Linked DNA regions of Homo sapiens: regions 1, 3, 4, 5, 6 and 7 are each linked to region 2. The links come from fine-mapping of genetic effects on gene expression. A gene starts in region 2. Each other region holds a variant in brackets. All regions are shown on one strand. Distances are between the middles of the regions. Region 1 overlaps NAV3 (neuron navigator 3). Region 2 holds the start of NAV3 (neuron navigator 3). Region 3 overlaps NAV3 (neuron navigator 3). Region 4 overlaps NAV3 (neuron navigator 3). Region 5 overlaps NAV3 (neuron navigator 3). Region 6 has its middle 130 kb from the start of LINC02464. Region 7 overlaps NAV3 (neuron navigator 3).

Region 1 (4,440 bases), 250 kb before region 2:
AGACTCAAAAGACTTACATAGCCTGATAGGCTTTTCTCCTAAAAAATTAATAAATCAAATTCTGACTTCTCTATTTCCTGTCTTATGCCTTTCCTGTTCATACCTGCTAGCTTGTCAAATGGATACGATCTCTAAAACACACCGGACTTCACTTATGATAACTAAATTGCCTGTGGTTGACAGGATTTTGAATTATCCTACTTGTTATTATCAAATGCATGTGCTCAGCTAAATAAAGTCATAAGACAAGCAAGTTTGAGGTAATTAGATGGTGCTGATTGTACCTGCAGTATGCAGTTCATTTTCATGATTAATTCTGCATGGAAGGCTACACATACTATTCTATTCCACAAAACAGAGCATCAAATAGGAGAAAAGAGTCCAGGGTACCTCGTGACTGCCAGTGTCAATTTGAACACTATTATCTCACCATGAGTAAATGGTCCAATATCTTAGAAAAACTCCAAAGCAGCAGCAGATTGAGAATTATGATCTATTTTAGACAGAAATTAAACTATAATGGGAAAAAGTAAAGTCTAAAAGTCATAATCAATACTGATACCCACTGTGTTAATGAGTTTCTGTCATTACAACAACAATGGAATCAAAAGGGTAGGAAAAGTATCTCTGGAAATTGTGGTGATTAAGTCTTTAATCCAAAGAGAACATTTATGCAGGTGAAAATTTATTTTAAAAGTATATTTCAAGATAGAAAACTTTTAAAAGTTAATTTAAGGCTCACTCTGTGTATCACATAGACTACTTAATATTACAAAAGGGTTTTTAATGATCTTTGGAAAACGAGAGAATGCTTGACCTAGTCTTTCTGTTCTCTTGCTAAGGGGACATGATACTTTCATTTTCCACTTTCTACTGGCCCTTGGTACTTTTATACTTTGTGTCTCAATCAGACCACATGAGTACCTACTATGCAAGAGATAAAACTTCTAAGTTAGAAACAGTGTAAACTATACCCTGTCCCCAAATTATTTTTGTCTAAAATGCCAGGTTTAAGAATGTCTAGATGGCTATAATTTAAGATTTTATTGTCAACAAAATGGGTGGGGAAGAGGGCAACAGGTTCATAACATATTAAAATATAGACAAAATACATTTTTGTGGTTAATATATTAACTCTCCATGCTTCAGTGGCCTCATTTACACAATGCAGGATACAATATCTTCGATTATGAACACAAGGCTTAACACATATCTGTCATATTATTATTTAAACACGTACAAGTGACCTTCACTTTCTTTACTGTCCTACGTAGGCAAGAGAGTAACCATTATTTATCATGCATAGAATCAGTAGAAACTCCACTTAGAGGGTAGGCCTAATCATTTGTACAGTGTTCTCTTTGGAGATGGTTCTATTCCAGATATAAAACCAGGGCACTGGGGTATCCAGCCATTCTCTAAATAAAAAAGCCTCCTGTTTATTGTCTTATTTGTAAAGAAGTGAGAGTTTTCAAAAATTAACTGATTTCTGATGTCTGCTAATAATTTTTTCTATGAAGAGAAGAAAAAGGATTGTGACTGACACTGTATAATATACTTATGGTGTGCTATCTTATGTAATCTTTATAATCGTCCTTTTAAAGTAGGTTTGGGATTGTGAAACAGATATCAAATACCAAATAAAAAATATCAAAAAATACAGCCTTTTTGCTGATAAAAATGTTATCAGTCATGAAAATAATGAACGCATCAATAGCAGGCTAATAAAACTTCAGAGATAAGAAATAATCATGCTTTGTTTTAAAGCAAATTTCTTTCAAAATTTATGATTCTATTTTTTTCCAAGGCATTTCCAGCTAGCTAAGCTATAAATCTGAGTCTTTATATCTAAAAATCTCACACTGTCTTTTCATTTAAAAATAAAAAAAAGACATCTTTAGAATTCTTGTGCTAGCCCATCCTTGCGCAGGATGTAGGACTCAATGGCACATCAGTTCTTCATGCTGTGACAGTTCTAGCTACAAAAGGTGTGACACTTTCTAACACCAAGGCATACTCACAGCTGGGGTTTTCAAATAACAGTTTTATTTTGGAGTCAATTCTGAGTGCTGCTAGGACATAGGAGGATGTTATTTGTGTATAAGCCTTTTGATCTATTTAAGGAATCACCAAGTCAAGTGGTTAAAAACCAGCAACATTATTTGTTAGAAATATGATCAAAATTAATATTTGTCTTTATAATTTGATTTTTCTAAATACTTCTCTCTTGCTAAAGTGGTTAAGTATTCAGATGATTTCACTATGCCACATTATCTTCTGGGTGTTTTGAAGGGAGGGGAAACCAAATCTCAGAGAGTCATCTTTCCATGGAGAATTGTCTCAATGCAGTTCTAGTTGTCTATTATTGTGCTGTGAGGTTATTGAGAGAGAAGCTATGGCTTTAAATTTAAAAGAGTGGAAAGAGGCCGGGCGC[G/A]GTGGCTCACGCCTATAATCCCAGCACTTTGGGAGGCCGAGGTGGGCGGATCACGAGGTCAGGAGATCGAGACCATCCCGGCTAAAACGGTGAAACCCCGTCTCTACTAAAAATACAAAAAATTAGCCGGGCGTAGTGGCGGGCGCCTGTAGTCCCAGCTACTTGGGAGGCTGAGGCAGGAGAATGGCGTGAACCCGGGAGGCGGAGCTTGCGGTGAGCCGAGATCCCGCCACTGCACTCCAGCCTGGGCGACAGAGCGAGACTCCGTCTCAAAAAAAAAAAAAAAAAAAAAAAAAAAAAAAAAAAAAAGAGTGGAAAGAGTGAAATGCAACTCTCATACTTGTTACTTGGGTTCATAGAAATTAGGTCTGATGTAGAGCAAAGAGAATGAGAATGTTATCGGTTGAATTGTGTACCTTCCAAAAATTTGGTTGTTGAAACCCTAACCCTAGAACCTCAGAATATGACCTTACTTGGAGATAGGGTCTTTACAGAGGTAATCAAGTTAAAGAGAGCTCATTGGAGTGGGACCTAATCTAACATGATGGATGTTCTTACTGAAAGGAGAAATTTGGACACAGACACACACAGGGAAGACAATGTGAAGACACAGAAGCTAACTACAAGACAAGGAGACAGGATCCCTCACTCGTGGCCCTCAAGAGAAAACAAGCCTACCAAAGCATGGATTTCTAATGTCTAGCCTCCAGAAGGGTGAGACAATATGTTTCTGTTTTTTGTTTTTGAGGCAGAGTTTTGCTCTTGTTGCCCAGGCTGGGAGTGCAAAGGCGTGATCTTGGCTCACTGCAACCTCCGCCTCCCAGGTTCAAGCGATTCTCCTGCCTCAGCCCTCCAGGTAGCTGGGATTACAGGCACCCACTGCCATGCCCAGATAATTTTTGTATTTTTAGTAGAGACGGGGTTTCACCATGTTGGTCAGGCTGGTCTCGAACTCCTGACCTCAGGTGATCTACCCGCCTCAGTCTCCCAAAGTGCTGGGATTATAGGCATGAGCCACTGTGCCTGGACAATATGTTTCTGTTGCTTAAGCCACCCAATCTGTAGTACTTTGTTATAAAGTCTTAGCAAACTAATACAGAGAATCAATGTTAAACTTAAGAGTCTAACAGTTAAGATTTGGATTTGTTTCACCACCATGGGAGTCAGCAAACTATGGCCATGGAAAAAACCCAAATTGTACACTGTTATTTAAGAATGTCTTTTACATTTCTAAATAGTTAGAAAAATTGGGGACAATTTGTTTTCTCTCATTGTGTAAACAGATACACAATATCTTGATTTTGCCTCTTGGCCCGTAAAGCCTAAAATATTTATTGTCTGGTCCTTTATGAACAAAAATTGTAAACTCTGGCCCAGATAAGAATCAAGCTGAGTTGAAATCCAACTTAATTTAGTTATTGAAATTTGGGTTAACTTTATTGAGCTTTTATATTTTTATTTGTACAACAGAGCTTTCTAAAAATTTTCATTATTTTACAGAATTAGTATCAAGGAGTAAAAACAAATGAAGAATATGAAAAAAACTTAAGAAGAAACTTAAGAAATATGGAAAGGTCCATACATATAATTGTATTTTTTCAGAAAATATTTATATAAATTACATATACAACAAATATTAGAAGTCTATCATTTCACTCAACACATTTTCTAAACTCAGAGATGAATTCTTTGATGTTTTAGACACAATCCAAAGATACTTTAAGCAGAATTTCTAAAGTAAATTACCATCAGATATCCTAGTATTATACTTTGCTATTTAAACATATTAATATCTTGGTCAAAATATTTTAAAATTACCACAAGCTAGAAAGCCTTGAATTTCTTAAGCAAGTAAAAGCAGGTAGCAATATTTTGGATTATATGGCTTCTATAGAATTTCATACTCAATAAATTTTCCTCCACAATGATTTCAAATGTATTTTTTCTTTTGAGATAATACCCTAGCTACATGCTTTTCATACCTGTGTTTTTTTTAAAAAGCTCTC
Region 2 (4,440 bases):
CACTTCTAGAGTTGATTTTTGTATAAAGGTTTTTTCCTTAAATTATTTTAAACTAACATTTGGATAGCAGAGTAAAATGAAAATATTTCCTAAGAAGCCAGAGACGAGGCTGTGACTTTGGAAAGCTTGACATCATAGTTAATGCTGCATTAAAAAGTGATGCTGAGTAGAATGATGGTTACCAGAGGCTGGAAAGGGTAGTGGCGAGGGGTAGGGGGAGTGTGGATCGTTAATGAGTACAAAAATACATTTAGATAGAATGAATAAGATCTAGTATTTGATAGCACTATAGGATGATTACTGTCAACAATAACTTATTCTATATTTTTAAATAACTAAAAGAATATATAATGTTTGCAACACAAAGACATGATAAATGCTTAAGGCAACAGATACTCCATTTACCCTGATATGATTATTACACATTGTATGCCTGTATCAGAATCTCTCATGAACCACATAAATATATACACCAATATGTACCCATAAATATATACACCTAATATGTACCAATAAAAGTAAAAATGCACAAAACAAAAGTGACGCTTATCAAGGTACAAATGAATCCGCATGAAGTTCAGCAGCTTCAGTGCCATTCTAGCATGCGTGACTGGAGAAAACGGTTGTAGTATGCTTTAGAAACCAAGGGCTATGAGCAACTACTCACAAAATATCATAAATTAAATGACTGAAAAAGATGTCAGTAATAAGTAAAAGAGTAGCGTTTCAGTTTACAAGGGAAAGTCCATATAAATGTGCAGTATCAAGGAAAATAGTATGTCATTTTCCTTCATACTGCAATGAATTAAGCAGCCTATGATACAAATTTTCAAGCAGAAATTCTTTGAAATGCAAATGACATTTAGAGAAAAGTGATGGTGTCTATATGAATTATTACAAATAAATGTCTTTTTGAAAGTACCTATTTTCATACATTGCAGTATGGATGACAATAGGTTCTCTTTTTCTCACATTTGTGACTGATTATGATTATTAGTAATAGAGCAATATCTAGAACTAACTAGGCATTCATCAATAAGTAGTATTAAATGATTACAATAGATGCATATTCAGAAAATTTTGATCATGACTTTTACAACTCTAAACTAAGAATACAGTGTTTACATAAGCTAAATATTCAGCTTTTCAGCCATTATAACTACTTACATCCTTACACTGGTATTCCTCTACTACTCCCCATTTCATAACATGTTTTATAGTGCACTTAAAGAGAAATGTGCATTTTAGCTACACAAGTCTGCAGGTAACTTCAGCAACTAACCTTGCTGTCTTCTTTCTCCTTGGCTTTTCCTTGGAGGGGTTTCTTCTCTCCAAATTCACAGGTTGATTTTAACGCAAGCTGACAAGAAAGCATGGAGCTCTCTGTTTCAGTAAGTTCCAAAGGTCTTGAAGAACAGTGCTGTGACCCAGTAGTGCCAAGATTTGGTATCGGAAGAGCAGTATGCACAGGCTTTGACCCAACAGCTGGCTGCCTCAGTTTTGAGGCAACCCCAAGAACAGGCATGGCTTCTATAAAATTATCTTCTTGCTGCCAAAGAAAATGCTTCTAACCTCAGTCTGGTAGACTCCAACTTTAGTATTTCCAGAACAAATACTTTAAACAAAACTAGCAGTCATCCTGATTTTTAAAAAGCTAATAATATAATTTTCAGGAAGAGGCAAAACTTCCCTGCATCTTTAGTTAAGTATCTTTTCTTTCTTGCTGGCTGGGATTCATATTCATTCTCATTCTCTCTCTCTCTCTCTTTCTCTCTCTCTCTCTCTCTCTCTGTCTCTCTCTCTCTCTCTCTCTCTCTGTCTCTCTCTCTCTCTCTGTTCAGTGACTCAGTATCTAAGTAATACTAAATACTCCTTTGGGGAGTAAACTCTTCTTCAAGGTAACTGCTACAAAGCTCCTTCTTAGGATTAAAGAGCTCTTAGTTTTGCTTATTTTTTTTTCTCACTAAAGCAGTCTGAGTCTGAACTTTGAGATTGAAAAAGAGGAAAAAATCAAAAGGAAAAGCCCTTCAGTCCAACTGTCAGAGCAGCCAAAAGACCACAACAGTGGAAGGACAGGGGTTCTTCCTGATTTCAGAAATAGCCAGCCTGCATTCTCTTTTTAAAGAAAATTGTATTTCCCCCAGCTCAGAAAAAATAAAAAGAATGGACATGTTAATGGCCAAAACAAACAGCTGTTGGAAGAACTTTTAGCCCGGAAACAATCTCAGCAATAAAGTTGTTTGTCTGATTTCCAGCTATTTTTCACTACTGACAGCCATGAGCCACGATGTTCATTCTGTTGCATCCCATGAAATCAGGCTAAAATCATGCAATAGTGCAACTAGCTAAAGCAGTTAAATCATTCATCGGACCATAGCTGCCTAGGTTATGAAAATAGAGTAAACACAGGAAGCAGGGCACTAAATATGTAGTAATCATTGTTCCCAAATTTAATAAGTCATGATTATAAAAACATTCAAAGCTAACACTTATGTGGAATGTATTACAAAGCAGTTATGGAGCTAAGCATTTTATGCATTATCACATTTAATCATTGGAATGACTCAAAGTATAGGCATATTTATTTTCTTCACTTTATAGAAAGAACAGCTATGACTTGGAGACACTGAAAAAATTGACTAAAATGATGAAGCTAGAAAGGGGGAAAGAATGTATGATTTTAGTTTGTAAACCTGTCTTTTAAAATGGTTGAAAATAACACTGTTATTCAAGCTTATGACGTCCAACTTAAAATCCCAAGCTTCTAAAAACTGTCCAAACAGATACTCAGTGAGAATGAATGATGATGCTTCCATCCATAGAATTATTTTAATATAATCATAGCATGTTCTATTTCTGGTTAAAGCATGTCAGGAACTTTAAATAAACAAGGGGTAAACTTTTAAGAAAACATCTAATGTACCATGCATTATTGTTCTGAAACTGATTGCACTCAGAAAATGGATACAGAGAGCAATTATATACACCAAATATAAAAATTAGTAATAATGCAACCAAAGGTCTTAGAAAAATGAGTGGTGGACACTTAGTATAGACACAATGAATCATGGAAATTATTAAATCGTAACCATTTTTTATAGAAAATGTCTTTCTTTAGTGAAGAAATGGTCATCTTTGGCCTACTGTTTCCAGGTCTTTAAATCACTACGTACTTTTATCTAAGAAGCAGTAATTTATAGATGAAAGAGCCAATAACTAAAAGTATATGTTCTGCTGATGCAGCATAGAAGACAGGAAATGTAAGTTAGAAGTCTTGCAGGCTTTAAAAATAGTAACCCAAGTGGGCTTTACACAGCGGGGTAATACAAAACAAATACAACACTAGTGGTATCAAAGAAATGAAATAATCTCTCTGAGGAAGTAAGTTATTTTGCAATTTGCAAACCATTCAACACATTATAACTTTCAGAAACTATAAGGTAATACAGAGTTGGAGAGGTTCATGTTCGTAAAATGAGGTTTAGTTCATAATAAGACATATGCAACTTGTAATCCTCACAATGCAAAACAAAACAGCACCTAAATAATAGAACTTGTGGGAAAAATTGATTCTAGGAAGTTCACTCAAAACATATGCAACTTTGGGAGTATATTGCTAGCAAAAATAATATTGGCACCTCAGAAAATAATTTGGACCACTCAAGGAAGTGACTCAGAATTACATAAAAAAATAATTGGGTATAAATGCTGGCAACACTTTAACCAGAATTGGTGGAAGAAATCCGGTTGGAAGGCAAACTCCAAGCCAGTAGGCTTGCCATTGAAATGGGTACAGGGTCAGGGCAACTGCAAATATTTAAGAGCTGCACAAGGCCAGGGGCATGCCCCTTTGAAGAGGAAGCCCCAGATGCAGGCATTCATTTTTGTTTTTGTTTTTAGTTTTCTTAAAACTGAGCCAAAAGGGCTCCTGCTGACTATACAACATTCAAACTGAGGGCTTCTTTGCCCACCCAAGGTTATAATTCTACGCTGACTATTCTGCTTCCCTTTGCCTAGAATAAATTGTATATAAAGCTACACAACTTCTGCATTATACTAGTACAAAATTCCTGTTTGCCAATTACAAATGAGCTCATTGGTATTTTGGAAACATGCATTGGAGGAGAATGTATCGTAATTCCTGGAACAATTAGATTGAAAAAAAAGGATTCACATTCAATAAGATGTCTTTTCACTTTGAAATACCTTTTGCATATTAGGCAATATCTTTCACTCTGACTGAAATATAAGATGGTATTAGTAGCCACTGTCAACTAATTTTTTGCAGTAATATCTACCACCAAAAGCAACAAAACCAAACTAACTTACTATAAAAAATGTGCTTTGTGCCAGGAGTTGTCATCTCAATTTATCTTAAAAGAACCACACCGTTTTGAGACCTAGGAGACAAAGGCACCGAGAAAGTAAAAAATTAGCTTA
Region 3 (4,440 bases), 200 kb before region 2:
ACTGACCTAGGTCTGTAACCCTTTACTCTAACGAGCTGACACAGTGCAGCAAGTACAGCCTGCTCATAGGAGCCCAGGAAGAGCAGGAATTAAGCACTGACGCCCAGCCCTGCACAAGCCTCTTACATTTTAGTATTCCACCTGCATTCTCAGATCTATGGCTCTTCCTTGCTGCTGCAGTGGATGCTGCTGGCTGCCATGGCAGCAAACATCCTGCCAAATTAAAACAGAGGCACGGGAACGGCTGTCCAGCGTAGAATGCCACAGGTTTCTGAGCCAAGCCTGTACGAGATCTTCCACTATTAACCTTATGCACATTTAAATGACTCTCAGCCACCCAATCTCAAACACGGACACACACTCACACCCTCACATACACAACACACACTCCCCGATGCCGAGAATGACAGACTAATTCTCTGTAGCTGCAGGCAGCTGAAGCAGGCAGATCTCCCTTCTGAATGTTGGGATTTGTGCTGTAAAAGCACAAATCAAATTCAAGAGTGTAAAGGACCTAAAAAATGAAGCATGACACTCTCCACCCGCTAGGAGATAATGCTTTAAAGGGAAAGACTTCCCTAATCTTTTAAAGAACAAAGTCAAAGCCTTCTTATTTTGAATCCTAAAATCCTAATGTGATGATAAAGATTTCTTACAGCCTTTTTGTAAAAACAAAAAGGAAATAGAAAGAAAAAAATAACTCAAAAGGGTTTTCCCTTGATATTTTGACTCAAAGCTTAAAATTGAAAGTTTATGGTCAAGTGTGTGGAACATAATAATGTTACAGATAACACAAAATGCACATTGTGTCTTTTGATATTGCATTTTTCCAGGTCTATTTCATAAGCCTATCACAGCATAATCAGCTCTTATTTCTTAATGTTTTCATAAAAACAGAAAACCTAAAGATAATTTTCTTGTATTTACCTTGTACTGGTACGTACACTATACCACCACAAAATTCTGATTTTAGGACAACTTTAAAAAACAAATATATAGTATAGCAGAAATCATGGGTACCATTGACAGTTAAGAAGACTATCGACCTTTCAGTATTTAACTTCTGAAGATTTTCTGCTCACAAACAGAAAAATAGGGATTTCTCCTTTATCAAATGAGGGAAAATGGAGAAATATGCAGAGATATTATCTTCATCATTTTCAGAGCTAATGTGGCAAAATTAATTGTGATTTTCTACCTCCTATTGCCAATCTCAATAGAGGAAATACCCAATCTCATAACTATATATATTAGCATTATAATATGCATTGCCTATAACTTTACACATAATAACCACTTACTTTGTAAAGTTAATTATTCCTTATGCCCCACCTTTCAAGGTAGATCAGACTTAGACCCATTTTATAGATATGAAAAGGAAATTAGCTGGAAAGAACAGCAATTATTTGTGACAAAATTCTGCAATAAAGAAATCTGTGAATTATTGATACTCATTCTCAATTCTATACTTTTTAAATACTACTCGTTTATATAAAATGTGCTAAATAAAATTACAGTACAAATATCAGATAATTGAAACTGACAGTTATGCTCCTAAAAACACAATTTTGTAAAGTATTTTTTGGAAGACCAAAATGACACTCCCCTTAGAATTCCTAAGTAGAAAATCTTTTTTCTTTCATTTTGAGTTATTGTGACACAGTGAATTTCCAAGTCCTGAGACCATAGTGAAATTTGTTCAAATTATGAAATTTCAATGTATTTAACATTTGTTACACTAGTATATATGCTAATATACCCTAAAGCCTTACAGATTCACAAAAAATGCAATTCTAATGCTTTATATATCAAATGAGTTGACCTTATTCATCTGTAAATAAAAGCAATATTTATGCCCTTTCCTTATTCAAGACTGCTTATACATATACCAATCAGTTTAAACCTGTGGTTCTCAAGCTTCATATGTTCAGAACCACTC[G/A]GAGGGCTTATCAAAACACAGTTCGCTGTGCCCCAGCCACATAACTGCTCATTCAGTTGGACTCGGAGGGTCCTGGGACTTTGTATTTCTAACATATTTCCAGATACTGCTGGCTCTGAAAACCCCCTTTGAGAACTACTATGCTGAGATTAGTGGTTTTCAACTGGGGATGGTTTTTCCCCCAAGGGACATTTGGCAATATCTGGAAACATTTTTCGTTATCACAACTGTGGGTGTGGTGGTGACATCTAAGGGGAAGTGGCCAGTGATGTTGCTAAACATCCTACAATGATAAACCACCCCCATGCAAAAAAGAATTCTGCATTTCACAACGTCCACAGTGCCGAAGTTGGGAAATCCTGAATTAGATTGTTATATTGCATTTACAAATGGTTTAGAAACTTCAGTGGCATTCAATACAAAGATGTATTTTGCTGACATTAATGTCCACTCTGTTTGTTACAGCTCTCTCTCAGGTATTCTTTATTCTAACAACCATGCTACAAGAGCAATCCTAGTCTGGGACATGTTGATTTTATGACCAAAGGAAAAGAGAGGTGAGAGATCCAAGCAATGGCTCTTAAGTTTCTGCTCAGGAACATCCCATGTCATTTTTCCACTTGTATTTCATTTGTCAGATTAAATCACATGGTTCTTCCTGATTCAATGAGACAGGAAATTTAATCCTTCTGGAGGGGTGAACCCTGGAAAGGATGGGCTCAGTCCAATGGAGCCAGCAAGGAGGGGATTGTAGAGAAGGCTTATCAAAAGGGGGTTTCTGTCTCTTTGTTCAAAGATATTGTTATTAACTTGTGGTTACAGTAGGTTTGTCCCAGAACTACATCAGTCCACATTTACTCTGAGCGACAGTGGGGAACCCACTTATTCCTTCTCTGGAGAGCGCCATCCTGCTTGCTTTGGGGGTACATTCATATATGAATGTTTTTATATTTGTTTGTATTCACACATATAGATGTATGTTATACAAGGAAGAGGAGGAAGGTGCAGTGCAAAGGAGACAAATACACCCAGTCAGTAGGAAAAATGTGAATCATTCTAATTACGCCAAGACCTAAAATAAGTTATAGCTATTATAATGTGCTGGAAAGGAATGCTTTTCAGCTCTTTAGTAAACATAATTATAATGTGGCTATTTAAGTAAAAGACCTAAACTGATTTGAATTATCTGAGCTTGATCTTCTTGATCTTTATAAACATTCAAAAAAAAAAGGGCAATTTCAGTGATCATTTACAGAGATTGTAAATGTCAGATATTTCCCACTTTTAATACAAAGTCTGGTAGTCAGTAAAAGCACATGTAACCATTCGCTTATCCTTCTGGTTAACCTAAATTCTTCTATTTCTAAAATGGTTTCCTGAATTCAACCAATAATTTTAATATTACTTTTTTACAAATGACATGCCAGCTTTATTGATATTGAGCCAGTCCAGCACCTATGAACATTTTTCAGTTGAATATAAATTCCAGATAAAGGTTAAGAAGTGAATTAAACAAATGTGTTACATGTTGGTGGATAGTCTTATGCAAAAAAAAAGGGCAAGTGTGAACCTATAGAAGAAAAATTGAAAAACTTCCTTGAGTACCAGTGGGATGAAAATTTGGGCTCGCTTTACATTTGGCAGAATCACTTGGAAGATGATGAAAGGGATGGCCTCTGAGGACAAATTCTTTCTGTCAATGAATGTGAGAATAAAACTCAAGCCAAAGCAGTAAAATCTGTACCATTAATTCAGCCAGCACTGTAATATTGAGGTCATGATATGAATCTTAGAGGAAAGGCAGGAAGCAATAAGCTACTTCTTCAATGGCAGAAATTATATAATACATTTCACCTGACTATAATAATTATTGGAGCTACCATCATCAGATTGGGTAAATACAACTAGGTTTCTTCACAAAGAACATAATAAGCAAAAGCAAATTTAAGTGACGTACTTAAAAATTTTGGAGAGGTGCACTGAAGACTTATGAAGAATATTCAAATTGAAAAAGTCATTTATCCAGTATTCTACTTTATTGAGTGTCATGCATTTCTGATATTTATCTTCAAACCATAATTTATTACCTTTTTAAACTTTCATTACCATTTAATGGCAAAGACAATGTTTTTATAATGTCAAGTGAGTTACTGCATTGGTGAAAATTTAAACAGCTAAGCTCTCCAACTAACTTAGCAAATCCCTCTAACACATCTGCATTGCAATGTGAACCACTCAAGTTTGCTCTTTAATAGTATGGCAAATCTTTACATGTCATACATCCTGTGGGTCATGCAATAGGGATGATTTTCACATTTGTGTAAGCACAAAAAGACTTTTTTCTGGGTTACATAACTCAAAAGTAGAGGAGAAATAGTTTCAGACATGGATTTTTCAGGGGCTCAGTTATTTCCGACAATGGCCTTGAATTTGGTCTCTCCTGATTTAGGTTCTGTTTCCTCTATGTTTGTTTCATTTGAGGGTGGAGGTCACTGTTAGCA
Region 4 (4,440 bases), 24 kb before region 2:
AAGTATAACTGCTTATTTTGAATTGAAACCATTCAAATTTTAAAGTGCATAATTCTAAATGTCTGGGTAAAAATGTTTTTAAAAAGCCATTTCATAATACTCAAACATTGTTTAGAAATGTGGATAATTAACTGTATTATTCCTCCTTTCAAGTTAACATTTTAATGTTATGCATTCACAACCATTGTAAAATAATTTAATATTAAGAATGTTATTTTATTATTTTACTTTTTAATTACATCATTTCAAAACTCTGTGGCATTGTTTCCACTGGAAAATTTTCTAAAATATAATATTTTAAAATTATTTCTGGAGGTAAGATTTTAAATTCAAAGATTGAGTTAAACCAAATATAGTCTTATTCAAATAAATACATATTTCTCATGTATGTTTTTACACCTTAGAACATAGGAAACAAATCTTGGGTGGACCTCCTGTGTAAGAAAACACTCCTTGGGGCCCAACAGCCAATGTGCACAATTTGTGAGCAAGTTATCAGTATTTCCTCCTAATTTTCACCTTGTCATTATCATTTCATAAAGCATTATTTATTCTAAGACTTAGATAGCTACATGTCACAAGAACAAATAATAATAATACTCTACTTCATAGACAGCCAAGAGCTGCAAGTCCTACTTCTCCTGAAACAGAACAAACAGCAGGAAATGAAAGCTCTTATATATATCCATTGGTAAAAAGAATTACCAGTTATATAGTGCTCATCTTCTCTCCACAACATATGTACAATAAAGAACGTTTCTTAAAAATTATATTGAAGTGAAGATAATAATACTCTACAGCCTATATAAACAGTAAATTCTAATAACAGACTTACATGGAAATAAACATTATAGCATTTATTATGAAAATGCAGTACGAATCTGTATCAGTTAGCACTTGCTATATAAAATACACCACCAAAAATTTAAGGAATTAAAACAACAATGACTTTTTAGCTCATGATACTGTAGGGTGACAATTTGGGCTAAGGTCAGCTAGGAGTTCCTTCTTCTGAGTTTGGCTGGGCTCACTCACGTATCTGCAATGTGCTGGCAGTCAACGACTCACTCATACATCTGGCATTAGCTAGCTGTCGGCTAGGGCCCTGCATCGATTGTCACTCAATATCCAGTGGACTAGCTCATGCTTATTTATATAGAGTGCCCACGAGCAGCAAGTGGGAAAGCTCTGGGCCTCTTTAGTCTGGGCTCAGAATTCTCACAGTGTCTCTTCAACTGCATTCTATTGCTCAAAGTAAATTCCAAGGCCAGTCCAGATTCAAGATGGATGTGAATACACTTCTGTACCCCACCTTGATGGGAGGAGCTGCAAAGTATTATAGAATTCTTATAATATATCACAATGTCATTGAACAGAGACCTTTTGAGAAAATAGAAAAATATTGTGATACCCTTTAGGGATATCACAGATTCACTAAGAATAGATTCTGTCAAACTGACCTTCTTTCATTTTGTAACAATGTTAAGTGGGAAGCCAAAAAAATAACAAAAGCTTAGAATTTTGATTTCAGACAATATTTGATGATTATTTTACTATTTTTGGCAAAAATATATTGAAATTTAGGCTATACCGAACAGTTGGATAACTGTATAAATATTTAGACAATTATAATTTTTAAATGTTGATTAAAAGATCATTCTCCACCTGAATTCTTTAGGACACATGCAAAAGGATGTTAGTCAGCATATATTTTTTATTTTTATTTTTGGAGATGGAGTCTCGCTCTGTCACCCAGGCTGGAGGGCAGTGGCGCGATCTCAGCTCACTGCAAGCTCCGCCTCCTGGGTTCAGGCCATTCTCCTGCCTCAGCCTCCCGAGTAGCTGGGACTACAGGCGCCCGCCACCACGCCCAGCTAATTTTTTGTATTTTTAGTAGAGACGGGGTTTCATCGTGTTAGCCAGGATGGTCTCAATCTCCTGACCTCGTGATCTGCCTGCCTCCACCCACCTCGGCCTCCCAAAGTGCTGGGATTACAGGCGTGAGCCACTGCACCCGGCCAGATGTTAGTCAGCATTTCTAAGTAATAAATGCTTACACTTAAAATATTTAGACGGTATATGATCTCATTTGTAGATTTAGAAAAGATAGTAGAAAGAGGCGGCATGATTGATAAGGAAATGAACTTG[G/A]AATTAGCATAAATGATTTGAAATTATATGTTGTTTTCTAGGATAAGTGCCACAAATATTCTGGCACATTTATTTCCAATAATTTTAACACACACACACAAACACACACACACACACACATACACACATACACACAATTGGCTTATCATGATTACATAGCTTTATTTCCTACCTTCTTCAGTTACTTTTACATCAAAAAGAAAACATAGTCCTATATCATAAAATGTTCTCGGAAAACAAGGTTTCTAATGATCAGCAAGTTTTGTACATTCGTAAATTAACTGAAAAAGTTGGAGGACACTTGTTTGATAATAATCATAAAAGTACGATTTAGGGGATTTATGCAGATTTATTCAAATTCAAGTTTAGTATGTGAACATGGTATGAGGTACTGCCAAAAATATGATAGAGCTGCTCTAAGCTGAATCAACAGAAACAGGCTGCCTTCCAGTTCTAGAAACTAATGGAGCCATATTGCTGATGAAACATCATGTAGGCTATTGCTTTCTATTAATTTTTAATCTTAATGTTAAATATATCAGTAACTAATTAGGCTATGTCTGAAAACGAATAACCATGATGATAAGGCATCTGAAATTCATATTGTGTGTGGAATAGTTGAAAGCCTTTACTCAAAGAAGAGGACAAAAAGGTGAGGCTTTTTCATTTTCCTACCAACTGGTATGACTATGAGCTCTAAAAATGTACACCTGCTAACAGACTGCTTCCCAAAGTCAATTCTGAGTTCCTCAATTATCCCTGAAACCTTTCCAAGACTTAGAAGTCATAGGATTCATATAATATGTGTTGAATAGATAAGTGAACAAAAGACTATATTAGTAAACTAGAACCAATAAGTGGAACTAACAGAGAGAGAATTTTCACCTCAGTATAAGAAAAATTTATACCTTATGAAATATTAACTCCTGATTTTTAGAAGTCTGCCAAACTGACTATAAAAGGTATGCATACGTTAAGAGTTTTACTGGATTCAGAAATCATCTGACACAAAATGTGGCTTTTTTTTAAATAGAGATAAGATTATCTCTATTCTGTACAATGACCAATTCTGCCTGTTTTATTGTGTATGTTGAAATGTTGCTATCAGAAGTATTGCACATATTCAATTTTCATCTCAAATAGTGCTTTTTGCATAGAATAGTTTTGAAATTTTTGAACAGTAGAGTTTCTTAAACAAGATAAAAATTGATACATTGGATTACACTAAAATTAAGAATTTATGTTTCCCAAAAGACATTATTAAGGGAGGGAAAACACAACCCATGGAATGGGAAAAGATATTCACAATATGCATATTTGACAAAGGACTCATGTGCAGAAAATGTTTAAAAAATTTCTATCTACCATTAAGGAAAGAGGCTCACTACTTATTAGAAAAGTAAGCAGAAAACCTGAATGAACACAACGGAAGATATCCAAATGGCCAGTTAAATACAGAAAAGATAATCAATTCCATCAGTCATAAGTGTATGGAAGCTTAAAACTACAACAAAATCACACTACATAGAAAATGCTAAGGACCTGTGGCCTCATAACAATGGTGATACCAGAGGGCAGAGATGTGGAGCAACTGAAGATGCATTCAGGTTAGTAAGAAAGCAATCTGGTACAACCACTTTAGAAATGGTGGCAGTAATCGTACTCATGAAAGCTGAGTATATGTCTTGCCTATTACCTAGAAGTTTCACCCCTAGGGATCTACCCAACAGACATCGCTTCTTATGTTCGCAAAAAGACATGTGCAGGAATGTTCACAGTGTCATTATTCATAAATCCCCAAGCTATAAACTATCCAAATGCCCACATTAAAAGCAGAATAAAAAATAAATTGTGGGAGAATTCACGTACTGGAATAATATAAATCTACGAGAATAAGGAATCTAAATTGTAATTGTAAATGTCAGACAGCAATTGTAAATGTCTGTTTCCTATTCTCTACTAGCTGGAAAAATGTGTTCATTTTCTACAAATTCATGAAACATATTTATGGTATGTGTACTTTATTGGTATGTGTCTATTATACATCAATAACAATTTTAAAATATTTTACTAGGCCGTTTTCACAAACTTATAATGCATATGTTTTGTTATTCTTCATAAGTATAACATTATTTATTTATTTATTTATTTATTTATTTATTTATTTATGAGAGGGAGTCTCGTTCTGTTGCCCAGGCTGGAGTGCAGTGGTGCGATCTCAGCTCGCTACAACCTCCACCTCCTGGGTTCAAGTAATTCTACCACCTCAGCCTCCCTTTCAAGTAGCTGGGA
Region 5 (4,440 bases), 100 kb before region 2:
GGTGACTGAATCATGGGGGCAGACTTCTTCCCTTGCTGTTCTGATAGAGTTCTCATGAGATCTGGTTTTTCTGAAAGTGCGTAGCACATCCCCCTTGGCTCTCTCTCTTCCTCTGGCTCCCACCACGTAAGATGATCTTGCTTCTCCTTCACCTTCCACCATGACTGTAAGTTTCCTGAGGCCTCCCCAGCCATGCTACCTTTGGAGCCTGCAGAACTGTGAGTCTATTAAACCTCTTTTCCTTACAAGTTACCCAGTCTCAGGGATGTCTTTATAGCAGTGTGAAAACAGACTAATACCTCAACCAATGGAATTATTGTGAGGATTTAATGAATTTCTACTTTGGAATATGGACTTTCACTATGTTAAATATTGTTATTAGTAGCTCACTGCTTTAATATGAAATACATTTCCATTAACCATGAGAAATATTGTAAACCATTATTATTGTTAAACTCTTAAATCATATATATTCATCCAAATATAGTTTACCTAACTAATTAAGGAAAATTGCAGGAAGTTGTAATGACCTTGTAGCTTCATCATTTGCCTCTATGATATTTCTCTTACAGTGCTCATTATTCACTATAAATATGAGGATGAAATAGAAGGCAACATATATGATACCATATTTCTTTTGAGAAGTGAACCTGCTATGAAGAAACAACATCAGAAAAAGATCTACTCTGATTTTCCTTGAAGTCCTAAACATTTGTGATTTTTTTTTACTACTGACAGTATTACATACTATCTTTGTCTGTCACAGCAAGCTGCTCCTACATTTTTAAAAATTATTTATTTTAGCATTTGGTTAGTATTTTATAAGTAACCTACCACTCAGTTATATAAAAATGATTATAACTATTTTTGTTATTCCATACACTACATAGAGGTATATGTGTTTCAATGGGATAAAGTAACTTATTTTTAAGGAATCCTAAATAATCGAAGAAGTAGGGAGAAGTGATAGGGGAAAGACTGCCTCTTCATTGAAGTTAAAAGTCTGTTTGAATAAAAACACACTAATCTGTAACCTGATTAGAAGATATTATGAATATAATCAGAGGATTTAAAAATATTAGCTGAGCTAATTTTAACCCTGTACTTATTTAAAACATTATTGTTTTCCTTCAACATTCAAGCAGTAGCATTACATTTCTATAAGCACTGCTCCCTGGTATGTTCAAATTACTGGCTTTGTAAAGTTAAATGGGTTCTTCTAAGACATAACAGGAATTGTGTTGAAGACCAAGGGTTTCTATGATAATAACTGGACTTCTACATCTTAAAAAGCAGCAAAAGACTAAGCATATAAAGTGCAACCAGAAATCATACCTTAGGGAAAGGTGATCAGTGAAGTAAGTGTTTTTCCCACAAAAAGAAAAACTAGTATAGGGAAGAGAATTGGAAGGAAAAGGAGCCCTAGAACAGATTTAAGAGGTTACCTCTCTGGACTGAGTTTCAAAGTAGCATTTGGACCTGAGAATGGAATCACAAAGGACAACATTGACCACAACAGTATAGGAAAGCATACTTTTTTTTTATAATTTCCCAAGAGCCATATGGAATTTTCTGGAAGAAAGAAGTGATCCTAGAGAGCACTTGAAATCAGGACAGGAAGGATGTATAGAGCTGGCACAGAAAAGCAAAAAGGGCACAGAAGATGTGAGGATAGGTTAAAATAAGTCAAGTTATGTATGACAGGAATCCTACCTTCGGGCACTCATCAGACAGCAGCCTTGGTGGGTAGCAATGGCAATGAACAAGCTGTGTCACCCCTGGTGCCATGATAATAAGGAACCACAATCAACAACCCTCCCCAGCCCATCACTGCAGAAAGAAAAGGAAGAATCTGGAACTGAATGAGCCTGGCCCTCAAACACTGAGTTTTAAACTGAAAGTGATTATGTTACTTTGAACTGAGATAAATACATTTTCTCCTACTATACAGAGAAAGAGGCTTAAAAGGTGAAGTTATATATTTTTTCAAAGATATAATTTTGTACACCACAGTTTTAAGACTCAAAAATTCAAAAATGGTAGGCAACATTGGACAAAGAAGGTTGCAAAATCACAGTGTGGGATTAAGACACAATACATACTATTTTTAGATGTTTTGAAAAGTTGATCACAGACTGGATCTGCAGTTGTTGTTACAGAACTGATATGACCAAAAGATCTGTGAATGAGTCCAATCTCATGACTCTTGTAGGCCTTCTAGAAATCTCAATAGCTCATGTGGTATAATTATGAAACGAATCCATTAAAAGTTTTGGGTAACATCATATTGTCACAATATATGTAATACATTCACCATCTAGCTAGTTCACCTCAGTCTGTACAGATAGTTCACCTCAATATTCACATTAAAATGAAAGCTCACACTGTATGAAGTTTTTCAAAAATCTCAACTTTGGAGTTTGATTTAAAAGTGAATATTAATGAGTTGACTACCCCATAAGATCGGTGGATGGTCTATGAAGGCAAGTAAATTATAAAGTAAACATAAATTGAAGTCTGATAATTTCCTTTTACTTTTTTTCTGTCATTCTCTTTCAATCTCTGACCTAGTGCTGTTAATTTTATCTCC[C/T]TAACATCTCTTCACCCTTCCACTCCTCCATTGCTACTATCATTGCCCTGGGTCGCTTCTCATCATCTCTCACCCAATCACTCTAACAGTCATATAAACACTTTCTGAGTGCAGGCAGGCTAAGCATTATACTATTCTATACACTACAGATAGTGATTGCTTTAAAATGCAAATCTGATCAAGTAATTTAACGTGTTAGTAAAAATCACAAAATAGCTCCCACTTAACTTCAAAAAAAATGTCCCTTATGAAGTCAATTTATTCCATTTTTAAGAGAAAATTAGTTTAAATAAAAATAGCAAAAAGAGTAAAACATAACTATGAAGGTTACAGAAGAATGATGATTGAGAAATGACACATAAAAGGATGAGATTTGACAATCAGAAGGAAGGGGAAAGCATATTCCATGCAGAATATGCATAAATAATTACATCTACAGAGGAACAGAGCTATGAAATAGCCTCATGATTTCAGAGAATTTTGTATAGTTCTATTTGGCCAGAACATGGGGAAGGGGCACATGGAAACACTAAAGGAAGAGGCCAGGAATCAGGTAAGGGTTGGGCAAAAAGCAATAATATCTGAAGCTAAGAAGGCTTTATTAAGATTTTTAGGTGAAAGTTTATTTTCATGTAGGGAACATGAAAATGACAGCCATGCTCCTGTTACTAAACTTGAACTTGAGTGCAGCTATGGAGTTTAGAGTCAAGTTTAGAGTCAAGAAAGTAAAGACAGATTACTTACAAGACTTCTGTATTCTAGATGATAAAATAGTTTTCTGCCCTGTATTTACTAAGAAATTGCCCACAGGACAGCAAGAACAAAAAATCTTAACTCAAATTCTATCTTCCATGAACACAATATATGAGTGTGGAAGGCAGATGAAAGAATGATACACATGTAGCAGAGTAGTAAAGGAAGATGGACCCACAGAAGCCTGCAGAGGGAGACAGAGTAATGCAAACAGATTTTCCCACAGACCCCCAGAATGGCTCAGAAAGTATGAGCATCAGATCAAATGGAAGGTAGGATGAACCAAATTCAAGAGTTATATTGTTGCCGGCCTATCCATTCTCCCATCAAAAGCCAGGACATACTTTAGGGAAAATCCGGACTTAGGGTTATCAGGAAGACAAAAGGTAAAGGCATGGAAATGAAAACAAAAGGATTAAGTAAAATTATATATACTTATGTTGAGACCCCAGCAACTGATTTTTGCTTCCCTGGCACCCTCTCCTTCAGGAATATAGGATTTCATATCCTCCACCCTCACTCCAGTCAGATTTAAAAAATCTGTCTTTGACAACAATGATCATCCCTAAGATCAACAGATACTGACACTCATGGTACCCAGTGAATCAATGAGCTGGCCATCATTATAGGATGGCCTATAATGAATCACAAAAGACATTAACAACTATGTGCATCACACACACACACACACACAAACACACACGCACAAATAGCTTCCAAGTAGATTATTATTATTATTTGAGATGGAGTCTTGCTCTGTCACCCAGGCTGGCGTGCAGTGGCGCGATCTCGGCTCACTGCAAGCTCCTCCTCCCGGGTTCACGCCATTCTCCGGCCTCAGCCTCCCGAGTAGCTGGGACTACAGACACCCGCCACCACACCCGGCTAATTTTTTGTATTTTTTAGTAGAGATAGGGTTTCATCGTGTTAGCCAGGATGGTCTCGATCTCCTGACCTTGTGATCCGCCTGCCTGGGCCTCCCAAAGTGCTGGGATTACAGGAGTGAGCCACCGCACCTGGCCGCTTCCAAGTAGATTTTTATTGTCTCATGCTTGATACAGAGAATTGAGGTTTACCAGGGGTTTGATAAAATTCTC
Region 6 (4,440 bases), 380 kb after region 2:
TCTTTGTTTTTGAAGGATATTTTCACTGAATACACTATTCTGGGAGAAAGGTGTTTTGCCTTCAGCACGTTAAATAACATCATTCCACCCTTTCCTGGCCTGTAAAGTTTCCACTGAGAAGTCTACTGCCAGACATTATGGAGCTCCAATTTATGTTATTTCTTTTCTCTTGTTGCTTTTAGAATGTTTTCATAATCAAACTCCCAAATATCAAGGATAATTAAATGTCTTGAGGTAGTTTTATTTGGGTTAAATCTGCTTGGTGTTCTATGACTTCCTTATACTTGAATACTGATATCTTATTCTAGGTTTGAGAGGTTCTCTGTTACTATCACTTTAAATAAACTTTCTACCCCTGCTCTCTCACTACCTCCCCTTTAAGGCCAATGATTCTTAGATTTGCCTTTTTGAAGCTGTTTTCTAGATCTTTCAGGCATGCTTCACTCTTTTTCATTTTTTTTATTTTGTCACCTCTGACTGTCTTTTCAAAAAGCCTGTTTTCAAGCTACTAATTCTTTCTTCTGCTGGGTCAACTCTTCTATTATGAGATTCTGGTGCATTCTTCAGCACGTCAATTGCATTTTTCAACTCCAGAATTTATGCCTGATTATTTTTTAGTCATTTCAATCTCTTTGTTAAATTTACCTGATAGGATTCTGAATTCCTTCTCTGTATTACCTTGAATTTTATTGGTTTCCTTCCTCAAAACAGATATTTTGAATTCTCTGTCTAAAAGATCACATATCTCTGTCTCTCCAGGACTGGTCACTGGTGCCTTATTTAGTTCAACTGGTGAGGTCATGTTTTCCTGGGTGGCTTTCATGCTTGAGGATATTTGTTAGTGTCTGGGCATTGAAGAGTTAGGTATTTATTATAGTCTTTGCAGTTTGGTTTTATTTGTACCTGTCCTTCTTAGGAAGGCTTTCCAAGTATTCAAAGGGACTTGGGTATTTGATGTAAGTTTTTGATCACTGCCGCACATTTGCATGAGCTGTCACCCCAAGTCCAGTAACACTGTGGCTCTTGCAGACTCATAGAAGTAGTGCCTTGGTGGACTTGGATAAAATCTGGAAAAATTATCTGAATTACCAGACAGACTCTTACTCTCTTCCCTTAGTTTCTCCCAAACAAATAGAGTTTCACCCTCTCTGTGCTGAGCTGCCTGGAGCTGGGGCAGGGTGACACAGCACCCCTGTGGTCACCACCACTGGAACTGTACTGGGTCATACCTGAAGTCAGCACAGCACTGGGTCTCATTCAGGCCCGTGGTAACCACTGCCTGACTACCATCTTTGTTCACTCAGGGCCGTAGGGCTCTACAATCAGCAAGTGGTGAAGCCAGTCTGGCTTGCCTTCTTCCTTTCAGGGCAACAATTTCATCTGGAAGCCCAGGCCTAGAGTCGGAAACTTTAGGAATCTACCTAGTGCTGTATTCTACTGCAGCTAAGCTCACACCCAAGTCACAAGACAAAGTACTTCCCACTCTTCTCTCTCTTTTCCACAAGCAGAGAAGTGTCTTCCCATGGCCACCACCACCCCAGGCCCACAGTGAGCACTTCCTGGCTATCACTGATGTTCATTCAATGCCCAAGAGCTCCTCAGTCAGCTTGTGATGAATGTTGTCAGGCCTGGAACACTCCCTTCAGGGCAGTGGGCTCCCCTCTGGCCCAGGGCAGGTCCAGAAATGCCATCCAAGAGCCCACTTAATGGTCTACCCCACTGTGGCCAAGCTGGTACTTAAGCTGCAAGACAAAGTCCCCTTTACTCTTCCCTCTCCTTTTTTCCAAGTGGAAGGATTCCCTCCCCATAGCTACCACAGCTAGAAATATGCTTGGTCACACTTGAAGCTAACACATCTCAGAGTCTCACTCAAGGCTCATGATGAATGCAGCCTGGATACCACTGCTGATTATTCAGGGACCAAGGGCTCTTTAGTCAGCAGGTGATGAATCCTGCTAGGACTGGGTCCTTCTCTTCAAGGCAGCAGGTTACCTTCTAGCCCAGGGTATGTCTAGAGATGTTTAGGAGCTAGGGCTTGGAATAGGGGCCCAAGGACTCTGCCTGATACCCTATATACTGTGGCTAAGCAGGTACACAAGTTGCAAGCCAAAGTTCTCTTTACTTTTCCCTCTCTTCTCTTCAAACAGAAGAAAGGATTCCCTCCTGAAGCTGTGAGCTGTGCTGCCTGAGGTTGGGGAAAAGGTGATGCAAGCCACCCTGGCTGGTGCCTCATTAGGTCACATGGCCCCCAAATCCACAGGTTCCAAGCCCAGCATGGCTCTAGGACTTGCCCAGGAATTGCAGTCTTTGTGGCCTAGACTGCTTTTCAAGTTTATTTTGGACCCCAGAGCCCTTTAGCCCACAGTGGTAGGGCTTGCTGGAACTCAGGTTCCAACCGCTGAGATAAATGTTGTCCCGCTAGCTAGGGCTAGTATAAACGCTCTTCCATGGTCTCTGGCTGAGTTCTGCTCAGTGCTGCTTTCCATTGTTACAGCACTAAGTTCCAATGCAAAGTCCTGCAATTGCTTTGTTCTCCCTCCCTCAAGTGCAGTTTCTCTGCTCCATGCAGCCACTGCTGGAGGATGAGGGAGGGGTGGTGTCAACAATTCAATACTGT[C/T]TTTTCTACCCTCTTCAGTGTCGCTTTCAGTAATACGAAGTTAAAACCAGGTACTCTGATCCCTCACCTGATTCTTGGTTCTCATGCTTTTTTGTGTAGACAGTTGTTAAGTCTGGTGTTCCTGCAGGAAAGATGATCAGTGGTGGCTTCTATCTGGTCATCTTGTTCTGCCTCCCCTCCTCCAATACACACATATCATATATACTTTTGATGATATGCCAGAAAACACTTGATAAGACTCAAAGGTAAATGAGCCAATCACTACAAATAGTTTCACAGAGTCTTAAGCAATTACAAGGGTAAGGCATAGAGTAGAGTCTTAGTTCTATTTTAACTCAGTCTAATGTGGCTACTTCTGAGTATTTAGAAAGGAAATGTCCTACTTAAGCTGTTACTGTCCTAGTTGTTTTATATGTTCTTATAATTTGGAGTATGCAAGTTATTAAATTGCCTTGAGCTTAGCAGAGTTGTAAAGCATCTGATAATCCCTGAGGTTTAAAAGCAATAAGGAGGACACTCAGGCATTTTTTTCCCCTTAGCTTAGGGAATCCAAAACCTTGTTCATCAAATGAATTAAGAATATAAAGAATAAAGAATGACTAAAAATAATGTCAAAGACGTAGCGGATGTCAAACCAACACAGTCAACTGCCTTACTGTAAGAATTAAGTACCTCTACTTGGTGGAATATAGATATATTCTGACCTGTGGAGCAGTAGTCTCTTGAGAAATAACTGCTAAAAGCTTATCGTTTAGCTAACAAATAAGATGTACTATGTATGTTCTTACTAGAAAAAGCTTTAGGTTAACTAGAATCTCAAAGTCAAATATGAAGCTTCTGAAGCTTATTAATGCCTAAAATGGGATCTATTTAAACGTACAATTAAATCAAAGGAGAGTTTAAAGAAAATCAACAGAGTTCATAATAAAATATATCTGCAGTTCTTATGGTTTCCAAGACAAAAACAGCTTCAGCAATTCCATGGTGTGAGTTTGGAAGCAGGTCTTTAGCTTTTGTCATCTTTCCCGCTGTTCTTCAGCTGTCAGATTGAATCTACCCATAGGCAGGATATATCCATCCCAGTCAATTTGTGAAACACAGGTAATAAAAAAAACATTATTAATAAAACTATATTAAGTGCAGTGAACATATTATTATAAGTGAATCTTAGATGACATTTAGTAATTATTGATGAAATCTATTATAATAGAAACAATTCCTCATACTATTTTCTGGGCACATAAGACTAGTTATTTAGTATTCTTGTACCTGTTTCTATATGGGGTCATGTGACTGAATGTTGGCTAATAGAACATGGGGAGCTGGGAATTACATGGGAATTATATTACTCCTATACTTGACCCCCAGGATACAGTTACGAATTCCAAGGAGACTCTAGGACATGGATCCACAAGATAGAATTCTAGATTCCTGAGTCACCACTGGAAGGAAAAACATCCAGGTGAGTCTTCTGACTTTCTATTACACGTAGCTATTAATGTTCCAACAGGTTTTCACAATTCTCAATCTCTAACCAAAATGAGGAGAGAATGTGCTATTAGGACACTAAAGATAAAATTTAACATTCATTGAGCACTAAATATATGCCAGGCACTTCCTAAGTGCTCCTAAACATTATCTCATACATTTCTCATAAGACCTTGAGCTTTATAATCTCTATGAGGAAGCTGAAGCTAGGAGAAATGCAATAAAGTTCCAAGGTTATACAGCAAGAAGAGGCAGAGCTTGATTGAAACTTGAAAGTTTCTCTACAGAGCTCACATGACAACAGTGCATGGGATTCCTATTCAGTACATCCCAGG
Region 7 (4,440 bases), 330 kb before region 2:
ATGTTGCTTTTTCAGAATATCATGTTTAATATGAAACAGAAAAATGATCACTTTCTAATATTAATTATCTTTTAAAAACCAATAGCTATTAGCAGGTTAGTTGTTACTCAATGTGGCACAATATATGTAAAAGGAAGAATAACTAGTTAAGAAATATATATGCTATATAACTTGGGAGAATCCTATCTATGAAAAAAATTAGTTCAACCAAATTCATACTGTTATTTCTTTAAAACTTTGAGTATAAGCAAACACCTATAAAATATTCCATAGTCTTTGATTAAAAAGATAGCCAAATTCTACATTGATTGACATAATCTGTTCAAACTTGCACTAGTTATCTTTCCATATTTGCAAAATTCCTTCCTTCTCTCTCATTTCAGTTAATGAGATCTGCTCTCACCTTGTCACTCAAGCCACACCCATCTCTTTTCTCTGAGCTTTCCATATAATTTTTCCCTTTATTTAAACATCCTTCCTCACTGTTAAAAGCCATGGTAAAATGTCTCCACACTTGTGAAACCTGTTTTCCTGTCAGAAAAAAAGTGAAAATGTGCTTTGAGACTATTTAATGTAGTTTGTTTAGTTGTTGATGAATATATTTTTTCGCTTGATTTATGATCTCCATAAATATTGGGATGACTTTGTTGAAATATTCTGGTCTGTGTTAAACAGATGTTTCTCCCCTTGAAAGAATAACATAAAACTTTAACTTTATTGCATACGTATTTTTTTTTTTTGCAGGAGGGTGTCTGATCACCTAGTGAGTGGGGTACCATATAAAAAACATCAAAAACTTTATTATTTATTATAACCAGGAAGTCTTATTTTGGCTAAATCAGTGGAATCACCTCCTTTGGATGAGAACAAAGTCAGGTTTTCCTTTCTCTCTTTCCCAATAGTATTATAGAGATAAACATAAAGAATTTTAAAATAAAAACTTAACTGATACATAGACATTTTTCAATAGTTTATTTCTAGTTTTCATTTTTCTTCTTCATAATTATGGTTAGTTGTTCACATTTATTTTTTAAGATACATTTTCTCAGGTTTCTATAATGCATAGAAATTGTAATGTGGCCTTCAGATGCAACTAATAATTTTTATTTTATTTTTGTCCATAGTGGGGAGTTTGGATGAGGTACATGATTAGAAATGAATTCCCAAGATAGCTAACTATAAAATCATTAGAAATTTTTAAAATATTTTCATACAATTTCTTTATGTTGAAGGGAAACATAGAAGATACTCAAGTTTTGAGAATCCTCATTAATCATTTAGAAAAAAAACTGAAAAATGTATATGCCATCAAGATATGGATTTAAAGTCTACTCTTCCAATTCAGTCATTTCCAGTTTCTTATTCTCATTAAATACTAAAGAGAAGATTGAGGCTGGGATAATTCTGCAAAGGATTTTAGGAATAAGATAATCAGATCATATTTTGTTACTTCACACTTTTCAAAAATGATAGATATTTTAAAACCTGAGAACCAAACTAAGATTTCATTTTCCTCCAGTGAGCTATTCAAGATAATGATGCCCCCAACACCAGCTGAGCTTGTAAAGTTCTAGTTTTCCACGAAAGTTTCTCATGTTAAAGAAGCTAAATTGAGTCAATGTCTCTTTTCACAGTTTTATGCATGTATCTGAGGCTAAACAATTCGTTCAGGTCAGGCTTGAAATGCTTCCAAATAAAATGATCAAATTTTGTGTCAGAATATTCGCCTTTCCTGGTGGCCTTTCCAACCCAGTTTCTTAACTATACCTGATCTCTTTCCAAATTTCTCACTAACAAAGACTTTGTTGAGAATCCCAAAGCTTGGGACAATCTCATCAAGTGTCATCAACTAACTTGACCTTCTAGGCAAGCCTGTTTAAATTTTCCACCACATCTGCTTTTTAGGTCCTCACATTGGCACTAAGTTAATCTCACACTTCCCAGCTCTAGTTTCCTTAAACAGGTCCTCCTTTCCCCACTCCACCATGCATCTGAAGTCTTGCTAGTTGTTCTACTGAAATAACCTGGCCATCCCTATTGCATCTAGTTTCAAATAAATTACATTGACCAAATACCAGTAGTGTAAATAATTTGAAAATTTTAGATTCACATTATTCTATGCCCCAAAGATTAATGGATGCATCATCTGACTCCAGCAATATATTTTTTAAAAACACTTCTAGATGGCAAATATCATAACGTAAATTAGGGAGAGTTAATGTAAAAATC[C/T]TATTCAACTAAATTTTTAGTTGCAGCATTATCTATTTTCAAAGATTTGGTTTCAAATTCCCTTATTTTGAAGGTTTCAATTCCTGTTTTGTAGTCACCCAAAAAAATGTTTCAGAGAGGTAACAAATGAGCAAACTACTAGGCTTTATGGTTAGCATAGGAGTCAATATCTGAGCTTCATCACTCATACAAGGGGCTACTTCTCTGCCCTGCTCTGACCTTCTAACAAGAAAAACCCCTCATACCTTAACATATGTTCTAATTGCCTTGGCATGACAGCTACAGGGAACTAATTTGAAAGTCTTTTAAATTTTAAATTCTGAAATATTTAGCTGTGAATATAGCTTTAGTAAATTTGAACACAAGGATTTAGAAGTAGTTCTGTAAAAATGTTACTTATAAAAAATATAGTTTGCTGGATTCCTAGAAGTTGAGCCTTTCTCAACTGGCCTTCTGTGAGAAAATTAAGCTGCACAATGATTTGAGTAGCAATTTCCTTGATTCTGACAAGAGTGGTACATAGCTAGTACCATTCTAGATGGTGAGAAAAGAAGTTATTTCAGCACATATAATGGATGCCTCAGGGCATCAGGTTTAATTTTTTTCATATAATCCTGGTGAAGAAGTGCTGGTGAAGAGAAAACGATCTGAAATCAGGATAAAATTCTTGGTCAAACTACGCCAATATCATAGTCTACTGAGTCCTAGGTTAGGTATAGGGTAATGCCTAGAGATAATTTCACTCCCCAGCAAGCACATTAACAATTCTCTTAATTTTTACCTACTTACAGACTTAGTATTATATAACATGTCTTCTTTTAGCAGCTATTGGGAATACTGCTTAACTTTCAGAAAATGCTGCCAGATTGATCACTATTTTTTATTTTTTATTTTTGTAATTTTTATTTTTTTGAGATGCAGTCTCTCTCTGTCACCCAGGCTGGAGTGCAGTGGCATGATCTCAGCTCAGTGCAACCTTCACCTCCAGGGTTCAAGCAATTCTCCTGCCTCTGCAGATGTTTCCTTTGAGAATGCACATGACATTGTACTGAGTCTAATAGCATGATAATTTTCTGCCTTCTAAGTTATTCATACATGTCTTTTCTTTCTTACCAGGCTATAAGTATATAAAACCAGTGTTCTGCCACACAAATTTGGCAAGAGATTCCGTGTTATTTGGCATCTGGAAATAGGAAAAGTGTTAGGAGTGAATCCCTCTCTATTCAAGGGAGTTATTTTGGTCTATAAATCAAATGACAATTTTGATGTAGTTTCAGGCTATTAATGCCATGTGATTGCTGAAAATCACACTGTGAAGCCCAAAGACTAGAATCTGAGTCTTAATTTAGTTTATCCATTTTTAAAGTATGTAATCAAGAACATGTAACCACCTTGGCCTTTGTTACTTTGTGTTTTAGCTTCCAAACCAGCTTCTCAGTATCCTCATTCTCAGCTTTACTTTTTTCAGTAGTGCTTATCATCACCTGAAATCCTATATGTTTTAATTATATATTATATATATAAATTACATATTTATAAATATGTAATTTATATATATATTATATAATATATATATTTATATATATATTATATATATTATATATATATATTTTTTTTTGAGACAGAGTCTTGCTCTGTTGCCCAGGCTGGAGTGCAGTGGCATGACCTCGGCTTACTGCAACCTCCACCTCCCAGGTTCAAGTGATTCTCCTGCCTCAACCTCCTGAATAGCTGGGACTACAGGTGCCCACCACCAGGCCTGGCTAATTTTTGTTTCTAGTAGAGATGGGGTTTCACTATGTTGGCCAGGCTGGTCTTGAACTCCTGATCTCAGGGAGTCCACCTGCCTTGGCCTTTCAAAGTGCTAGGATTACACGTGTGAGTCACCACACCTGGCCTGTTTTAATTATATTTTTATTATCATCTGTGACCTCCTAAAATATAAACTCCATGATAAAGAGATACATATATATGAGATATATATGAGAAATATAAACTCCATGAGGAATATTACATACATGTATAATATGCTTTTAGAGTTCTAGTAGATAGGTATGTCTATAGATATAGACCTATATCTATCATTCTATATCTATATTGTCTGTACTGTTTTGTCATTAGAAGAGCACAAATTCAATATAAACTTGATGAATGACTAAATAGACAAATGAAACTTATAACTTGGGGAAGGGAGTTTAAGAATCTCTGCTC

What was found. PIP is the estimated chance that this variant, and not a neighbour inherited with it, causes the effect. A credible set is the group of variants that fine-mapping cannot tell apart.
Region 1: its variant is the best candidate, but not a certain one, in a credible set for the expression of NAV3 in unexposed skin (GTEx, PIP 0.62).
Region 3: its variant is the best candidate, but not a certain one, in a credible set for the expression of NAV3 in whole blood (TOPMed, PIP 0.85).
Region 4: its variant is the best candidate, but not a certain one, in a credible set for the expression of NAV3 in esophagus muscle (GTEx, PIP 0.67).
Region 5: its variant is the best candidate, but not a certain one, in a credible set for the expression of NAV3 in testis (GTEx, PIP 0.88).
Region 6: its variant is the best candidate, but not a certain one, in a credible set for the expression of NAV3 in skeletal muscle (GTEx, PIP 0.55).
Region 7: its variant is the best candidate, but not a certain one, in a credible set for the expression of NAV3 in cerebellum (GTEx, PIP 0.71).

Annotation. Positions count from the first base shown.
Region 1 is chr12:78,076,679-78,081,118 of GRCh38, reverse strand. The region is part of intron 12 of NAV3 (neuron navigator 3); the gene reads right to left. Among named protein-coding and RNA genes, the nearest start is that of NAV3, 250 kb to the right of the region's middle. The variant G/A (reference allele first, on the strand shown) is at 2,435.
Region 2 is chr12:77,828,547-77,832,986 of GRCh38, reverse strand. It overlaps NAV3 (neuron navigator 3), which reads right to left and starts at 2,093. Exons shown (of 40, transcript NM_001024383.2): 1 at 1,283-2,093. The coding sequence starts at 1,525.
Region 3 is chr12:78,031,968-78,036,407 of GRCh38, reverse strand. All of the region lies in intron 9 of NAV3 (neuron navigator 3), which reads right to left. Among named protein-coding and RNA genes, the nearest start is that of NAV3, 200 kb to the right of the region's middle. The variant G/A (reference allele first, on the strand shown) is at 1,940.
Region 4 is chr12:77,852,416-77,856,855 of GRCh38, reverse strand. The region is part of intron 1 of NAV3 (neuron navigator 3); the gene reads right to left. Among named protein-coding and RNA genes, the nearest start is that of NAV3, 24 kb to the right of the region's middle. The variant G/A (reference allele first, on the strand shown) is at 2,149.
Region 5 is chr12:77,931,510-77,935,949 of GRCh38, reverse strand. All of the region lies in intron 1 of NAV3 (neuron navigator 3), which reads right to left. Among named protein-coding and RNA genes, the nearest start is that of NAV3, 100 kb to the right of the region's middle. The variant C/T (reference allele first, on the strand shown) is at 2,591.
Region 6 is chr12:77,445,700-77,450,139 of GRCh38, reverse strand. No RefSeq gene overlaps it. Among named protein-coding and RNA genes, the nearest start is that of LINC02464, 130 kb to the right of the region's middle. The variant C/T (reference allele first, on the strand shown) is at 2,618.
Region 7 is chr12:78,162,269-78,166,708 of GRCh38, reverse strand. The region is part of intron 23 of NAV3 (neuron navigator 3); the gene reads right to left. Among named protein-coding and RNA genes, the nearest start is that of LINC02424, 200 kb to the left of the region's middle. The variant C/T (reference allele first, on the strand shown) is at 2,230.